Regions from separate parts of the Homo sapiens genome. Here region 1 is linked to region 2. Evidence: fine-mapped expression QTL. A gene starts in region 2. The other region holds a variant in brackets. All regions are shown on one strand. Distances are from middle to middle. Region 1 has its middle 14 kb from the start of HTR3A. Region 2 holds the start of HTR3B (5-hydroxytryptamine receptor 3B).

Region 1 (8,336 bases), 55 kb after region 2:
TCACCTTGTTGGTCAGGCTGGTCTCAAACTCCTGACCTGAAGTAATCTGCCCACCTCGGCCTCCCAAAATGCTGGGATTACAGGAGTGAGCCACTGCACCCAGCCTAGAAAGAGGTGTTTTGCTGAGGTATTGAGAGAATGGAATAAGATAGATTTATTGTTCAGTTCTCAGGGAGTGGGGAGGGATAGCTTTAGGAGACATACCTAATGTTAAATGACGAGTGCAGCACACCAACATGGCACATGTAAACATATGTAACTAACCTGCACGTTGTGCACATGTACCCTAAAACTTAAAGTATAATTAAAAAAAAAAGAAAAGATAAGATTTATTAAGTGCTGAGCACAGTGCCTTGCACTCAGGCATTGAAAGGATAGGAATTCTTCTTCATCACCACCTTACCACAGGGCTGTTATGAGAGCCCAGGGAGATCACATATGAAAGCGCTTTGTAAACTCGCCGGGTTTGCTCCTCAGAGTGTGGGTCCAGGACCAGCAGCATTAGCATCGCCTGGAGACTTGTTAGAAACGCAGAATTTCAGGTCCTCCCAGACCTCCTGAATCTGAGTCTGATTTCGAAGTGTTCTCTCAGGGGAGTGATGTGCACATTGTCTTTGGAGAAGCAGGGATGGAAGAACGATGGAGGTAAAAGGTGAGAGCGCAGACTCAGGGAGGCCTGAGGAGCTGGGTGTTCAGGGGCAGCCCAGCGTTACATGCAGCCCACCCCTGCTGCCAGGACAGCTGGGCCCACGGGGCACCTGCCAATCACTGTGCTGCACACGGTAATCTCCCCGCCTCACAATCAGAGCAGTCAAGCACTCAGCACAGCTGGGCAGCTGAATTATAGGCTGCAGGCAGATGGCAGAGATGGCTCTGCGTGTGCCGTCCAAGGAGAGAGTGAGTGAAGGGCAAAGAGGGCCTCTTCCACAGCCCCCTTCCCCTGCAGTGAACACCCTCTTTTCTGGAGAACAAGACTGGGCTGCCAGCACCAGCGATCAGGTGGCCCCCCGTTTCCCAGAGCTCACTTGCTGCCCTGGGCCAGCCTCCGGGCCCTCCTGCTTGCTGACTTATGGTCATGGTACCTTAAGGGACCATCTGCCCGGTGCCCTTAGTTGTGTGAGTCCCTCTTCCTGAGGGAGAAGCTTTCTTTAGCTGACTCTCCTCCTACAGATGCAACCTTTTTGTTCATCCAAATGCTTCCCTTTCCCCGGAGCGTGAAACATAAGACATCAGGTGGAGGTAGGCCTGAGACCAGAGGTACCATGCGGTTGTCATCCTTCTGTTTCTCCAGTTTCTACCACAAAGGCTGGCACAGGGCAGAGGACTGGAGAGTTCTGGCTGAAGGAACATCCATGCCATTTTGCCCGGAAGGTAGCCAGCTGGGCTGCAGCGAGGGAAGTGCCTGGCCACCATCTCCTACCAGAGCCCTGGTGGTGGAGAGTGATGGGGAAAGAATCCCAGGTGACAGGGGAGGCTGTGCTGCTGCCACTGCTCCTTCCCTTTCCTCCCAGAGGTGCCAGTGCTTGGCGGAGGCATCACTCTTGTAGACTGGATGCTCTGTCTTCTCATTCTGGTCCCAGGCTGCCGAGTGGCCTGTTCTCCCTGCCGCCACCGTGTCTCAGCCCTGGTCCCTGGGAGGGATGAAAGCTCTCTCCGTCTTCCTGATCTTCCCTTTCTGGTGATATTTCAAACACCCATTAGGTTTTACAGGGTATTGCTTCCAAGGCTACAGGAGATGGCTCTGGGGCTGCACTCCAGGCACTTAGGTCCCCCTGAGCCTGTTGACAATTCTGCCACGCAGCCTGTCCTCCCATCACACCCTACCCCCTTGCGCTTCAGCCACCACATCCCTCTCCCTGCCATCCTGAGCTTGACACAGAGGGCACTAGGCAGAGCCCAAGCTTGTCACTGTGCCTTTATAGGCCTGGGGTCCCCTACTCTGCTTCTTTGGGCAGCAGAGAGAGAGTGTGTGTACATGTGTCTGAGGCAGTAACTTGAAGTTGGAGGAGAATCTAGACCAACTCATGCAAAGCTCTCATTCTGCAGATGAGGCTGAGAGAAAATAAAAATATACCCAAGATAACACTAAAGACAATGATAATGATTACTGATAGCTACTGAAATGGGAAGCGTGTATGTGTCATGCATTGTATGAGGACTTTCCATGGTGAAGCTAATTTAGCCCACATGACCATCTTCCATGGTATGTTACATTTACAAATACAGAAACTAAGGCTCAGCCAGTTTAAGAAACCTGCCTACCATCACACAATGAGTGAGTGAAAGAGCAGAATTTGGTATTAGGATTATTTGCTTGAACATCAAGCAGCTTTAGTAGCTTCCTCTGAAAAGCAAAGTGGTGAGAGTAAGAGCCCACGCCCCTCCCACCCCAGGGAGCTGTGGAGGCTCCTGGGGTGAAAGCTGCAAAGGTGAGGGGTTATCATCCCCATGCAGTGTTATACCCAGCTGGGGAAGAGGCCCCCGCTCCAGAAGAGAAGATGCACACATTGCCTTGGGCTAGAATCCTGAGGCCTCCACAGGGGCCTCCCTGCCCAGGCTAAAGAAATGTAAATGGGAAGGGAAGTGGGGAAGGGAGAGGTGTCAGAAATGGGGCTGGGCTAGGTCAGCATGGTGGCTCACGCCTGTAATCCCAGCACTTTGGGAGACTGAGGCCAGGTGGATTACTTGAGGTCAGGAGTTCGAGACAAGCCTGGCCAACATGATGAAACCCCATCTTTACTAAAAATACGAAAATTAGCCAGGCATGTGGTGAACACCTGTAATTCCAGCTACTCAGGAGGCTGAGGCAGGAGAATCACTTGAACCTGGGAGGCGGAGATTGCAGTGAGCTGAGATCATGCCACTGCACTCCAGCCTGGGCGACAGAGCAAGACTTCATATCAAAAAAAAAAAAAGAATCTTATTCAGATCACCTCATTAAGTCCTCCCCAAAACTCTGGGGTAGGTGACAGTATCCATCCTCCCTTCAGAGAGGCTGACTAACCTGTCCAAGGCATGTAGCTAGGAAGTGGCAGAGCTGGCATTTGAATGGTGTTAGGACAGGCTAGGTTATTGCTGTGGTAACACATGATCCCCAAATCTCTGTGGCTTACGACAGCAAGCTCTGTGCCCACAGAGGTCAGCCCCAGCTCTGATCTTATGTCCTCGCCCTGAGACCCAGGCCGCTGCAGCCTCCATTGCGAACATCACCAGTCACCACAGCACAGAAAGATACACATGTGGCTGGGTGTGGTGACTCACGCCTGTAATCTCAGTACTTTGGGAAGCTGAGGTAGGTGTGGATCATTTAAGGTCAGGAGTTCAAGACCAGCCTGTCCAACATGGTGGAACCCCATCTCTACTAAAAATACAAGAATTAGGCAGGTGTGGTGGCAGGCGCCTGTAGTTCTAGCTACTCGGGAGGCTGAGGTAGGAGAATCACTTGAACCCAGGAGGTGGGGGTTGCAGTGAGCCTAGATCATACCACTGCACTCTAGCTTGGGTGACAGAGCAAGTGACTCTGTCTCAAAAAAAAAAAAAAAAAAAAAAAAAGGAATGCCATGCACGGTGACTCATGCCTGTAATCCCAGCACTTTGGGAGGCTGAGGTGGGCAGATCACGAGGTCAGGAGTTTGAGACCAGCCTGGCCAATATGGTGAAACCCGTCTCTACTAAAAATACAGAAATTAGCAGGGCATGGTGGTGTGCACCTGTAATTCCAGCTACTAGGGAGGCTGAGGCAGAAGTATCGCTTGAACCCGGGAGGTGGAGGTTGCAGTGAGCCCAGATTGCACCACTGCACTCTAGCCTGGGAGACAAAGGGAGCCTCCATCTCAGGAGAAAAAAAAAAAAGAAGATACACACGTCCTTTCTGCTCACAACTCAGTGTCCTACTGTCCTTGTCGTGCAACCCACCGAACCACCACAAGGCCAGGAAGTACAATCCTTACAAGTGCCCAGAAAGGGGGAGAACTGGAATATTCGAGGCACAGTGCTCACAGTTACCACATAGTTTCTAATCACCAAGCTCGACTCAGTCCCTCAGTGCACTGAGCTGCCATTTCCTCATCGGAAAGGTGGGAATAGTAATTCTACCTTGCAGGGTCATTGTGGTGAATAAATGAGACAATATACAAAAATCTCAAGCCTAGGAACACTGAGTCGTAGCCATTAGTATGTTCATGTGTGAAGTTCAGGAATACTCTGGGGCTGTTCAGTTCGACCCTTTTTCAGTGCAATGACAAATCAAGATACGGGATTTAGAAGAGTCCTCTGAAACAAGAGGACAAGTTTGGGAAATGCTGCTGCTCTCTGAGTGCATGAAACCACCTTCAGGGAACCCAGAGAGAAAGGAAAATTTCCAGGAGGACAATCAGTGGCAACAGCCAATGTGCAAATGTGATTATGTCAGCATACACGCAGACTGCTGAGCGCTTCTCCAGGACTCTTCATTTAAGACTAATTAAATGCTTGGAACCAGGAAGATTGAGAGGGTCCTCTCCAGGAAGCTATTCCAGGCCAGCAAGACACTTCAGGGTCTATTTACAGAGGTGGAACGCTCCAGAGGAGGAGGAAGAAGAGGGTAGCTCAACTGAGAGCACTCCAGAGGAGGAACAGGAGGCCAGAAGGGCTGAAAATCACTCAGGATATTGCAGGGTCCTCCCGCCCCAACCTTGGCCTCCGAGGGTCTGAGGTTTTGTGTGATGTAAGAAAACAAAACTAGGGTTTGTGCTGGTGATTGCAAAATGAGAACTGCCTGTGGAA[T/G]GGCATGGGTTCGTTTTCCTTTGCCACGGTGAAGAATTACCATAAATTTAGCTGCTTGAAACAACACAAGTTTATTGTCTTACAGATCGGGAGGTCAACAGTCCGAAGTCAGTTTCACTGGGTTAAACCAATTCTGCCAGCCGAGTTGGTTCCTTCTGGAGGTTCTCAGGGGAGAATCTGTGCCCTTGCCTTTTTCAGTTTCTAGGGGTCACTGGCATTCTTCAGTTCATGTCCCCTTCCTCCGTCTTCAAGGCTCAAATCCAGTTTCTGCTTCTGTCATGCACAGCCTTCTCTTCCATCATCAAATCTCCTTCTGCCTTCCTCTAATAAGGACACTAAATCAGTACATTTAGGACGGACCCTGGCAACCCAGTACAACTTCTCATCTTAAGATCCCTAATTTAATCACATCTGTAATTTTCCCTTTTGCCGTCTAAGGTAAGAGCTATAGGTCCCAGAGATTAGGACCTGGGTATCTTTGGGGCCATTATTCAGGATACCACACAAAGCTTTTGAGATGGTTTGAATAGCAAAAGGGCAACAATTGTCTTAGGCCATCTTGCATTGCTCTAAAGGAATACTCAAGGCTGGATAATTTATAAATAAAAGTTTGTTTGCCTCATGGTTCTGCAGACTATACCAGAAGCATAGTGCCAGCATCTGCTTCTGGTAAGGGCTTCAGGAAACTTCCACTGATGGTGGAGGGTGAAGGGGAGCAGGCTTCACATGGTGAGAGAAGAGGAAAGAGAAAGAGGGCAAGGCAGCTAGGCTCTGCAACAACCTGCTCTTGTATGAACAATTCGAGCAAGAACTCACTCATCACCATGGGGAGGGCACCAAGCCATTCAAGAGGGATCCACCCCCATGACACAAACTCCTCCCACTAGGCCTTACCTCCAACCTTGGGGATCACATTTCAAAACATGAGATTTGGAGGGGACAAACATCCAAACTATATCAACCGTGAACCCAACTGCATCCATAGATCTTCCACTTGGCCCTGGGGTAGGAAGCACCCTGCAGGCCTAGCTGTGTATGGAACCTGTGTGATGACCCCCAGCAAGCCTGTCTACACATCTCCCTTCAGCCATGTCGCCAGTGCCCAATAGACAGTGATACAGAGCAGTAATCATGTCATGATTACTGTCATGTAATCAACCAATGATTACATGAGTTGACTCCAAGAGACATGTCGTGGAATCAACCAATCTATTAGCAGTCATGATTTCGGCGTCCGTGTCCTGTGGCTGGCAGTTCAGACCTGGGGCCCTGCAGATTCTCTGAGGAGGAGATTCAGTCAACAAATATTTATTGAGGTCCTACTATGTGTCGGGCACTATTCCAGGCACTTGGGATAGATACATCAGTGAACAAAGCACACAGAGGTCCCTGCCTTCATGGCGCTAAAGTTCCATCATTAGAGACAGACAGTAAAGAATCAATTGAAGTCAAAAGAAGTTAACTGTGTAGAATGTTAGGTACTAATGGGGCTATGGAAAAATAGAAAAAGTAGGGCAGGGGAAGAGGGATCAGGCATGAGAAGGTGGGATGGGGCAGATGAGGGTATTATATGGAGTAGCCACGGGAGGCCTCACTGAGCAGGGGAGATTTATGTAGACTTGAAGGAGAGGGTATTTGCCAAGTGGACATGCAGAGCGGGGAGCTCCAGGCAGAGGGGAGAGCTGGGGCAGAGGCTGTAAGGCAGAGCACACCTGGTCTGTGCAAGCAACAGAAGGAAGGCCATGAGGTTGGAGTGGGCAGACTGATGGAGAAAGTCACAGCAGGCCGGGTGTGGTGGCTCATGCCTGTAATTCCAGCACTTTGGAAGGCTAAGGCAGGTGGATCACTTGAGGTCAGGAGTTCGAGACCATCCTGGCCAACATGGTGAAACCCTGTCTCTATTACACATACAAAAATTAGCCAGGCATGGTGGCAGGCACCTGTAATCCCAGCTACCAGGGAGGCTGAGGTGGGAGAATTGCTTGAACCCAGGAGGTGGAGGCTGTGGTGAGTCAAGATCACACCACTGCACTCCAGCCTGGGCGATACTCCTGGACGACTTGTCTAGTCGGAGGGGGGGGGGGAAAGAAAGTCACATCAGGAGAAGACAAAGAGGTAACAGGGGCCAGATGAGCTATGAGGGCCTCTGTGCAACTAACCAGGCCAAACCTGAAAAGAAAAAAGAAGACAAAGCAAATGAGGGCTGCAAGCACTCTGGTACGAGACTCACGAAAATCCTCCGAACTGGGAGCTAGTTCCTGTGTTGGGTGTTGTGTGACCTTGCTCGAGTCACCTATCACTGCAGAGATTCACTTTCCTCACTTATAAATTGTGCAGCTTGCACCAGATTCATTCACTCATCCACCCATTCCACAGGCTCTGACTAGCACCTCTGAGGCCCCAAGCACATGGACCAGCACTGCAGACACTAAGATGAGTCTCTGCCCTCCCTGTCCAGAGTCCTTCCAGCTCCAACACTTGGGGCTGAAAGAATTGAGGGGTTTGTGCCCAGAGAAGAGAAGGTGTTATGGTGTAAGGACTTTCACATAAAAAAGAAGTTAGTCCCAAAGGATAGGACCGGATGGGTGGAAGTTTTAGGGAAACAGTTTTGGGGATCAGTGTAGAAAAGAGTTCTCCAAAAATGAAATGGGCTATCCTGAGAGGTCTCATCACTGGAGGTCTGCAGAGGCTGAAAGATCATTTGCTGGGATGTCATCAAGGTTTGTGTGCTGGGAAGAGGCTGGACTAGATGATTTTTAAGGCCCGAGGGAGTTTTCTCTGCTATCTCTATCTCTGGAGGACTTGGACACCAAGACAGGCTTGTGTCCTTTGGGATGTGCTGAGGGTCTTGCTTTCGGCTGGGGATGGGCTGCCCTCCCACAAATGCTGAGGTGAATGACACAGTGAGAGACAAGACTAGCTGGATTTCCTAGGCTGACTAAGAATCCCTAAGCCTAGCTGGGAAGGTGACCGCATCCACCTTTAAACACGGAGCTTGCAACTTAGCTCACACCTGACCAATCAGGTAGTAAAGAGAGCTCACTAAAATGCTAATTAGGCACAAACAGGAGGTAAAGAAATAGCCAATCATCTATTGCCTGAGAGCACAGCGGGAAGGACAACCATGGGGTATAAACCCAGGCATTCGAGCCAGCAACAGCTACCCTCTTTGGGTCCCCTCCCTTTGTATGGGAGCTCTGTTTTCACTCTATTAAATCTTGCAACTACACTCTCTTCTGGTCCGTGTTGGTTACCGCTCGAGCTGATCTTTCGCTTTCCATCCCCCACTGCTGTTTGCCGCCGTTGCAGACCTGCCGCTGACTTCCATCCTTCTGGATCCAGCAGGTTGTCTGCTGTGCTCCTGATCCAGTGAGGCCCCCATTGCCACTCCTGATTGGGCTAAAGGCTTGCCTTTGTTCCCGCATGGCTAAGTGCCCAGGTTCGTCCTAATGGAGCTGAACACTAGTCACTGGGTTCCACGGTTCTCTTCTGTGACCCACGGCTCCTAATAGAGCTATAACACTCACTGCAGGGCCCAAGGTTCCATTCCTTGGAATCCGTGAGGCCAAGAA
Region 2 (8,309 bases):
ACATACAGCCAAACCATATTAGTGGATGAAAAATGCTGTATGTAAGATAGTGAGGAGGGACCATTTTTGTGAAAAACTGAAGGGTGGGGAGAGGAGCAATACCAAACCTAAAAGAACTGAGTATGAGCTGGGTGTAGTGGTGCATGCCTATATTCCTAGCTACTGGGGAGGCCAAGGCGGAAGGATCACTTGAGCTCAGGAGATCAAGACCAGCCTGGGCAACATACCAACACCTCATCTCTACTAAAAAGAGAAGAAATTAGCCAGGTGTGGTGGCACACACATATACTCCCAGCTATGGGAGGCTGGGATGGGAGGATTGCTTGAGGCTGGGAGATGGAGGCTACAGTGAGCCATGATCACACCACTGCATTCCAGCCTGGGCGACAGAGTGAAACTCTGCCTCTTAGGGAAAAAAAAAAAAAAAGCTAAAAGTACTGAGTAAACAAAGTCCAGACAGGACACTAAGATTAGAAAAAGAAAGATCTAAGCCAGCTGACAGTACAGAGCAAGGCTGTCAAGGAAAGATCAGGAAGCATTGTATATAAACTACTTTGAAGACAAGTCACTCATACAAAATCATTGCCATCTTGACAGAATTCATCAGCCAATAAAGAGCCATAATGGGCAGGATTACTAGACTGTTGTTAAGTTAGCTAATGAAAGTTGTAATGTACCTGTATTACACATCATTAGTAATGGCCTTCCAGTAACAGATGGGCATATCAGAAAGTGCAAAGAAAAGGGAGGGAAGCACGTCCCCAGAAGGTTTGACTTAGAGTCATAGCTTACTACAATGCATGGCAAGAATGCAATGTCGATCATCGCCTCAATTAAACCTTTGCATAAAGGGATGCTTCTGCATTGCTTTCCCATAAAAACTGCTACCTACATAGCTATATTGCCTGTAGCTTGCCTTTCTCTTGTCCTAATTCATCCCATAAGTAGAAGCTGACAATTCAAAGAACTGATAGGAAGAGCTGAGACTTTGAGGGCCAGATCAGTCCTCTATGATCTTCCCTCTTGATGAAGCCCCATTTATCTGCCCACCCTCTCTAAAGAGTATTTCTCAGATAAACTTTCCATAACTGTGTACCAAAGTTCCTCCACCAAGTTACATTTAAATTACTCTTTCTTCTGAAATATTTTCAAATGTATAGCAGAATTGGATGGATAGTACAAAGAATTCCCCTAGACCCCCACAATCATTTGAGAATAAGTTAGCGACATGATCAACATGATGTGCCCTGTTTTTGTTTTTTGTTTTTTTTTTCTTTTCTGAGACAGAGTCTCATTCTGTCGCCCAGGCTGAAGTGCAGTGGTGTGATCTCGGCTCAGTGCAACCTCTGCCTTCTGGGTTCACAAGATTCTCATGCCTCAGCCTCCTGAGTAGCTGGAATTACAGGCATGTGCCACCGTGCCGGGCTAATTTTTGTATTTTTAGTAGAGACAGGGTTTCACCATGTTGGCCAGGCTGGCCTTGAACTCCTGATCTCAGGTGATCTACCCACCTAGGTCTCCTAAAGTGCTGGGATTACAGGCGTGAGCCACTGTGTGCGATCTTCCCTCATTCTTGAATACTTAGTGTGCTGGTCTTACAAACAAGGACATTCTTTTGCATAATCTCTATACAATTAAAATCAGGAAACCAACATTACTACATTGCCACATTACTACCATCTAATCCACATACCTCATTCGAGTTTCAATTCTTCCCAAAATGTTCTTTATAACAAAAGGATCCAATTCAGAATCAGATATTGTGCTTGTGTCTCTTTAGTCTGATAGGTTCCTCAGTCTTTCCTTAACTTTTATAACCTTGGCACTTTTGTGTGTGTGTGTTTTTGTTTTTGAGACAGGGTCTACCTCTATTGCCCAGGCTGGAGTGCAGTGGCACAATCACAGCTCACTGCAGACTCTATCTCCTGAGCTCAAGTGATCCTCCTGCCTCAGCCTCCCAAGTAGCTGGGACTACAGGAGTGCACCACCACATTAAACTAATCTTTTATTTTTTTGTGTGGAGACAGGGTATCCTTATGTAGCTTAGGCTGGTCTCAAATTCCTGGGCTCAAGCAGTCCTCTTACTTCAACCTCCCAAAGTACTGGGATTACAGGTATGAGCCATTGCACCTGGCCCACCTTGGCACTTTTGAAGATGCCTGCTGTTTTGTTTGTCCCACAGTATGCCACTGTCTCATCTGGTGTTTCCTCCTGAATAGATTCAAGTTATGAATTTTTGGCAAGACTATACCGGAAGAGCTATGGAAGCTAGGTGTGCTTGTTACTATTGGGGTGTCATTCTCCTAGGCTGCTAAGTGGACAGAGCTAGGGAATATATGCATGTATGAACATGTGCAAACACACATTACATTTGTATTTATTTCTTTTCTTTTCTTTTTTTTTTTTTTTTTTTGAGGCGGAGTCTCCCTCTGTCTCCCAGGCTGGAGTGCAGTGGCGCGATCTTGGTTCATGGCAACCTCCACCTCCTGATTCAAACAATTCCCCTGCCTCAGCCTCCCGAGTAGCTGGGATTACAGGCATGTGCCACCACGCCTGACTAATTTTTGTAGTTTCAGTAGAGATGGGGCTCACCATGTTGGTCAGGCTGGTCTCAAACTCCTAACCTCAAGTGATCCACTGGCCTCGGCCTCCCAAAGTGCTGGGATTACAGGCTTGAGCCACCACGCCCAGCTTATTTGCAATTATTTATATATTTAGCAAATGTACTGAAAACCATGGGTTCACACTGATACCTCCAAAACCAAGTCAACACCAAATGGTTATCTTAGTTTTCTCTCTTTCTGTGTATACCACTCCCTTCACCAACAGTAAGAAAGCAATTAGGCTACATTTTATTGGTAGATGAAAATTAGGTGTAGAACTTCATGGATTCTAAACAAAGGGACTGAGTGATTAGGAGAATAGGAATCAAATATATACTTTCCCCCCTTCGGTTGGCTCTGTGAAAATTTATATCAAAATTTGCCTCTATAATCTCATTTTTAATAAAAAAGCAGGCAGATGTTGGAAATGGTATTTGTTTTTTCTTTCTAGAGCATCTGGGGGTGTCTAGAAATGGAAAATAGTGTTATTGTATAGAATTATGCATCATGTTCCTTAGTAATGAAAAATGAATGCGTATTCAATCAAAAAGTGAAAAAAAAACTTTTATTAAATGATGTTGAACTTTGTTTTCATCTTCAATAAGCCTAGAAGCATCCTTTCTAGAAGGTTACTTTCTGAATTGTGAGCAGTGAAAATTTGAGAAGCCCTCCTATTTATCAAAAGTCAATGTTTCTTTTAATTAAAAGGGCTTAGGAAAAACAAAAAGCACTTTTCCATTGCATTGTTTGCAGTTGTTCTTCATTAGACAATACCAGGTTTCCATTAGCCTTGTGTAATTCAAGAGCCCAAGAACCACTGTCAAATGCTGAAGATGTTACTGCATAAGTCTGATTTAGAACAGCTATTTGGATTTCAATTATTAATGAAATTAGTGTCCTGAATGTCAGCAAGAGTACTGCCTTAGGTAAAGGCTGTAAAGGAAATCATATTAGTGTGGAATTTCCTCTCCTTAGGGGCTCCTCTTAGATTACATTATTCACTTAGCTATCTCCTGTCAGGAAAATGGAAATGTTGGCCACGGTCTGATCTTGGGGCAGAACCAAAGGGAGAAGTTAAGGGATTTCATGACGGCATCAATTCCAAAACATTTGCATGGTGCTGGTATTGCCTTTGGTCCCACTGAGTGTTTACAAAATAGCACCAGTAAGGATAGCATCAACTGGCAAACGGAGAAGGAGGAGAACAGAGTGGAGAGGAACCCTGTTAGGAGAAATTGAGCGGCATTCCATCTGGTAGGCAAGTTTGCATTTCTCCTTTTTGGGATCTGCCCAGGAATGTTGTCAAGTGTAATGGCTCCCCTGTGGGCCTGCATCCTGGTGGCTGCAGGTGAGTCCTTTTAATAATTTTACTAGGCATTAAGGATTAACTCTTAGAAGATAGAGACAATATTTGTATACACCGTACTGTAGGACTTCTCAGGCATGTTTGTTTTTATTCATCGTCTGTAAAATGCCAGTCCTGTGAAGCTATATGGAAAACAATGATTTGTTTGTGACTTGGCTCCTATGATTGCAAATACGTATACATATAGCATCAGACTGTGGGGCTTTTTACACATAGCTGAAAATATGCTCTGAAATGTTATAATTGCTTGATAAATCTCTGCTTCTCTAGAAATCAAGCTCTCTGCAGGTTGATTGAGAGTTTGGGGCATTCTTTTTCAAATTTGCTTTTATGTGTGGATAATATGTTTTTATTATCCAAAATAGTCTTGGCTTCATTATCAGCTGTTAGCAGCCCAGAGAAAAAGTCCACTAGATTTGTCATGGCTACAGATATATGTATATCATTTTGGTATTAGAGGCCTTAACATCTCGCCTTACAAAATCTATATAGGTGATGAGTATATCTCTAAAGACAGGTACTATAAACTGGTAAGTTTTGAGTCTACAATTCCTCTTAAAAGTAATTTAGAAGTTAATACTTTTTTTTCTAAATTTCTAGAACTATATTTCCATGGCACCAGTATTAACTCTACTGAATTGAATCATTTTAGTTAGGATACAATTGATTCTTAGTACATGCGCACAAATCAAGAATTTATGATTATGCTGGTGTTCTCAACACCCCACTTTCTTGAGGTTTCTCCTAGAGCTCATATCTGAATTCTCAAGTTTTAGGATGTAACTGGAAGTGGAATGAGTCAATTATAGAGATGAGTTAGAAATTTGGTAGCCAGGAAGCTGGAAATGATTTTTTTATTGGGTAGAGAAGAAAAATAGCCACTTATCATTAAAGTATAAAAATCCTGGATGTTGAACATAAAGGATAAAAGCATATCTTAATTGTAAAAAATAAAAACAGAGGAAGTGTCATTAAATGCCAAATGGGTTTCTTAGTAGAAAATAATCGTGAACATTAAACTAAGATAAAATAGAAAAATGAAGGTAAGAAAACAGACTAAGTTCTTAACAATATCTCTCTAATGTTTTGTATTATGCATGATTTTTGTTCTAAATGTAGCAGAAAGAAGTGTTTTAATAGTGTCTGATAACCAGTGCTTTACCATAAATCATTCCGTGGATACTTGTTGCAGAAAGACCTGCCCTGTGGAATTGTACTGGGTTTTACTATGTTTACTTTACGTATTTTACTATATTTACAAATCAAGATGATTTGTTAAGTGTAAGAGCACGGAACCAATCCCAGGGGGCAGTGTGCTGGTATAGAAGGAGGCCTGAACAAGGAGAGCCAGCTAATTCCTGCTTCACCACTCACCAGCCACGTAACCCTGGGAAGTCAATTAATCTCTTAGAGACTCAGTTTTCCTGTAAGCTAACTTTATTTTGGATATTCATGACAATCAGATAAGACAGCATTGTTAAATTGTAAGGTGAAATGCAAATGTAAGATATTATTAACCTGAAAACACATGCAGAAAATACCACTGGCTATTTCTGTCCAATAATATACTCCATACAACATGTCAGTCTTCTTTTTGAAAGGTTACTTGCTGTTGTTCCTGATATTCTCAGGGAGCCAGGTTACACTTAATCATGTAGCGTCATGATTAAGAGCTTGGACTTCGAATCCAGACCAGCTGTGTGTAAATATCACTCCCTTCACTTGCAAGCTTCATGACCTTGGGCAGTGCTAAGCTCACTATGCCAATAGTCCCTCATCTGCAGGAATAGTGCACTCCTCACAGAGCTGTAGAGTACCTGTCTCATAAGTTTGTTGGGAACTTTGAAGGAGATCATTCATGTGAGGACTTAGCCTGGTGCCTGGCATACAGTCAGCATTCAATTAGTGTTAGGAATTCAATACATAAATCTCATTTCCTTTTAACCTCTCAGATATATGTGTAACTCTCTTATAATCCTACAGATACATAGTGACTAAAGCAAGAATAGTGCTTTCCATCAAAGTGCCCTGAACACTTTAAGATAGGTGCATGGGAGAGTAAGTCATTAAAACAAGGAAAACACAGGAATAATTTTACTGTGTTCTTATCTTCCTCCTTTTCAATCTCTCTTCACCTGCAAGTGCTTCATAGCTCAGTCCCTAACACATTCTACTTTCCAGAAATCTTACAAGTGAATCATTTGAAGCTGATTATTAGCATTCAAGAAGGCAGTTTTGGCGAGGAATCTTTTCTGGGTCTGTTGATAGCTTCCATCAGTGTCTGTTGAAACATCACTGAACTGTGAGTCATTTAGTGCTTGTGTGAATGTCACATTAGCTTTCAAGGGGCATAATTTACTGTTAATTAATGGTCACTTAAATCCTTAATCTCTCTCCTGTAATTGATCTTTCTCCTCAGGCAAATTTGCATTCATAGTAGAAATGTAATTTATTATTTCTTCCCATCTTAAACAAAGAACTCTTTCCCCTTTTGGTTTATTTAAGCATATTTCCATTTGCTTATTATTTTTCTCCTTTCAGTGCTTGATTCTCTTTTGTTCCTAGTCCTAGCTTCCAGAACTTTCTCTTTTTAACCAAGATTTTGACCCATTCTAGAAAACATGAGTTTATCCATAGGGAATCTATGGATTGCTTCCTAGACAAGATCGCAGAGGGGAATTTGAGTCTTTGTGAGCAGACAGTGCGAGGAACACATATTCATTTCTCAGAATTATGTTTTAATGCTGTCTCGGGTAATTTCCTGTATTGAAACATACTCATTTCGGTGTTTCCCCAACTGAGACTTGAATTGGGAGCTTCCAAGCGAGGTAAACGTGAAGCTGCCCACAGCAAAGTTGGCAGGAAAAGCACTGGGACAGCTTTGCCTTGTGCTCCTGACTTCCCTCCCCTGGGGTACACCAGCGAGAAATGTTCTCAGGTAGAGAGATTCACAGCACACTTTTTGACAATAACAGTTCACAAAAACCCTACAAATGATGCCTGATGCAAGCCACACACCTTAGTCCTGCACGCCTGAATAGCTAACGCCATTTTAGGCATCTTCTTGGGTGGATTGTTAGGGAGTTAAAATGCTCATTAGATTCCCAGTTCCGACGGTAATGAAAGTGTATATTGCACTGCCCACAAGGAGTCTGGCATTGTACCTCCAGCATTGTTGTTAGCGTTTTGGTCACACTGACATTGTTAAATCATAGAAATTGCTGCCTGTAGCGGCAAGTGACATGACATCATTCATAAAGAAATGGGTATAAACAGGATTGTCGCACAGGGAGAAGCGATCTCATTTACAGTTTCCTGCTGGATCCCTCATACCTTTGGCAGCTCATCAAAATAACCATCAAAACCACTGACAGCCCAGGCAAATTCACACGCAGGACACTACAGAGAGATTTCACTCACGCACTTTGTCAGGAGGTGTGCAATTTGCTTCGGTCCAATGACTGAGTGAAGCATTGAATCCCCTAAGGGCTGGCAAAGCTTGTGAACAAAATATCTTTTTGCAATTCAGAGAAAGCCCTCACAAATTTGTCACTTCCAATTGCTGGTGCTCATTTCTCTTGCTTCCCTTCCTCTGGCCTCCCTGGCCTCAACACCAGTCACAGCTCCTCTACAAATCAAGATTTTTGGGTCAGAAGAAATGGTTGTTCCCTGGAACCAGAGAGAATTTTCTCAAAACAAAGATCTCATTTTCTGACAAGTGCATTTTATTTAAGGACAGATGAAATGAGAAAAGAGATTTTTGAGGAGAAAAGTACAAATTGGGCTCTCGTTAATCCCTTTATCTAGAAATCTATACAAGTTTTTTGGGTTAATGGGTTTCTTCATGTTTTTTTGCTTGATTTTTCTATTGAATTTTTGAATTACGCATGAAAAATCAAAAGAAAAACCAACGCGGGAGTTAAGTTTTGGCTAAGTGTGTAGGTGGGTTTTTTCTAGATGCTAGGAGAGGATGATACAGGAATAAAGAAATTATTCTGTCTCCAAAATGCAAGATTGTTGTAAAATGGAATTGTAGGTACAGTTTTCCAACCTTGGAGATGGCGTTGATTTACTTGTTTTTACAATGAGGTTTCTCCATTGGGCACTTAGGCCATCAGCTTACTTTAAGCATTTGCCAAAGGCCCCACCAGCTGGCTGTGAATTGATGCAGATTTTGGTGAGCTGAAAGCTATATTCTAGTAAAAGCCACCGAGTCCTGAACAGTCTGAAACCTCCTAAAGAAACCAAGCTCCTCTTACTTTTATCTTCACAATGATAGTTTATTTTCCAGGAATTCTAGCCACAGATACACATCATCCCCAGGATTCTGCTCTGTATCA

Evidence for each region.
Region 1: its variant is fine-mapped to the expression of HTR3B in whole blood (TOPMed, PIP above 0.99).

Annotation. Positions count from the first base shown.
Region 1 is chr11:113,956,445-113,964,780 of GRCh38, forward strand. No RefSeq gene overlaps it. Among named protein-coding and RNA genes, the nearest start is that of HTR3A, 14 kb to the right of the region's middle. RefSeq lists an enhancer at 266-1,151. The variant T/G (reference allele first, on the strand shown) is at 4,765.
Region 2 is chr11:113,901,035-113,909,343 of GRCh38, forward strand. HTR3B (5-hydroxytryptamine receptor 3B) reads left to right here and starts at 3,762. Exons shown (of 9, transcript NM_006028.5): 1 at 3,762-3,951; 2 at 8,261-8,309. The coding sequence starts at 3,900.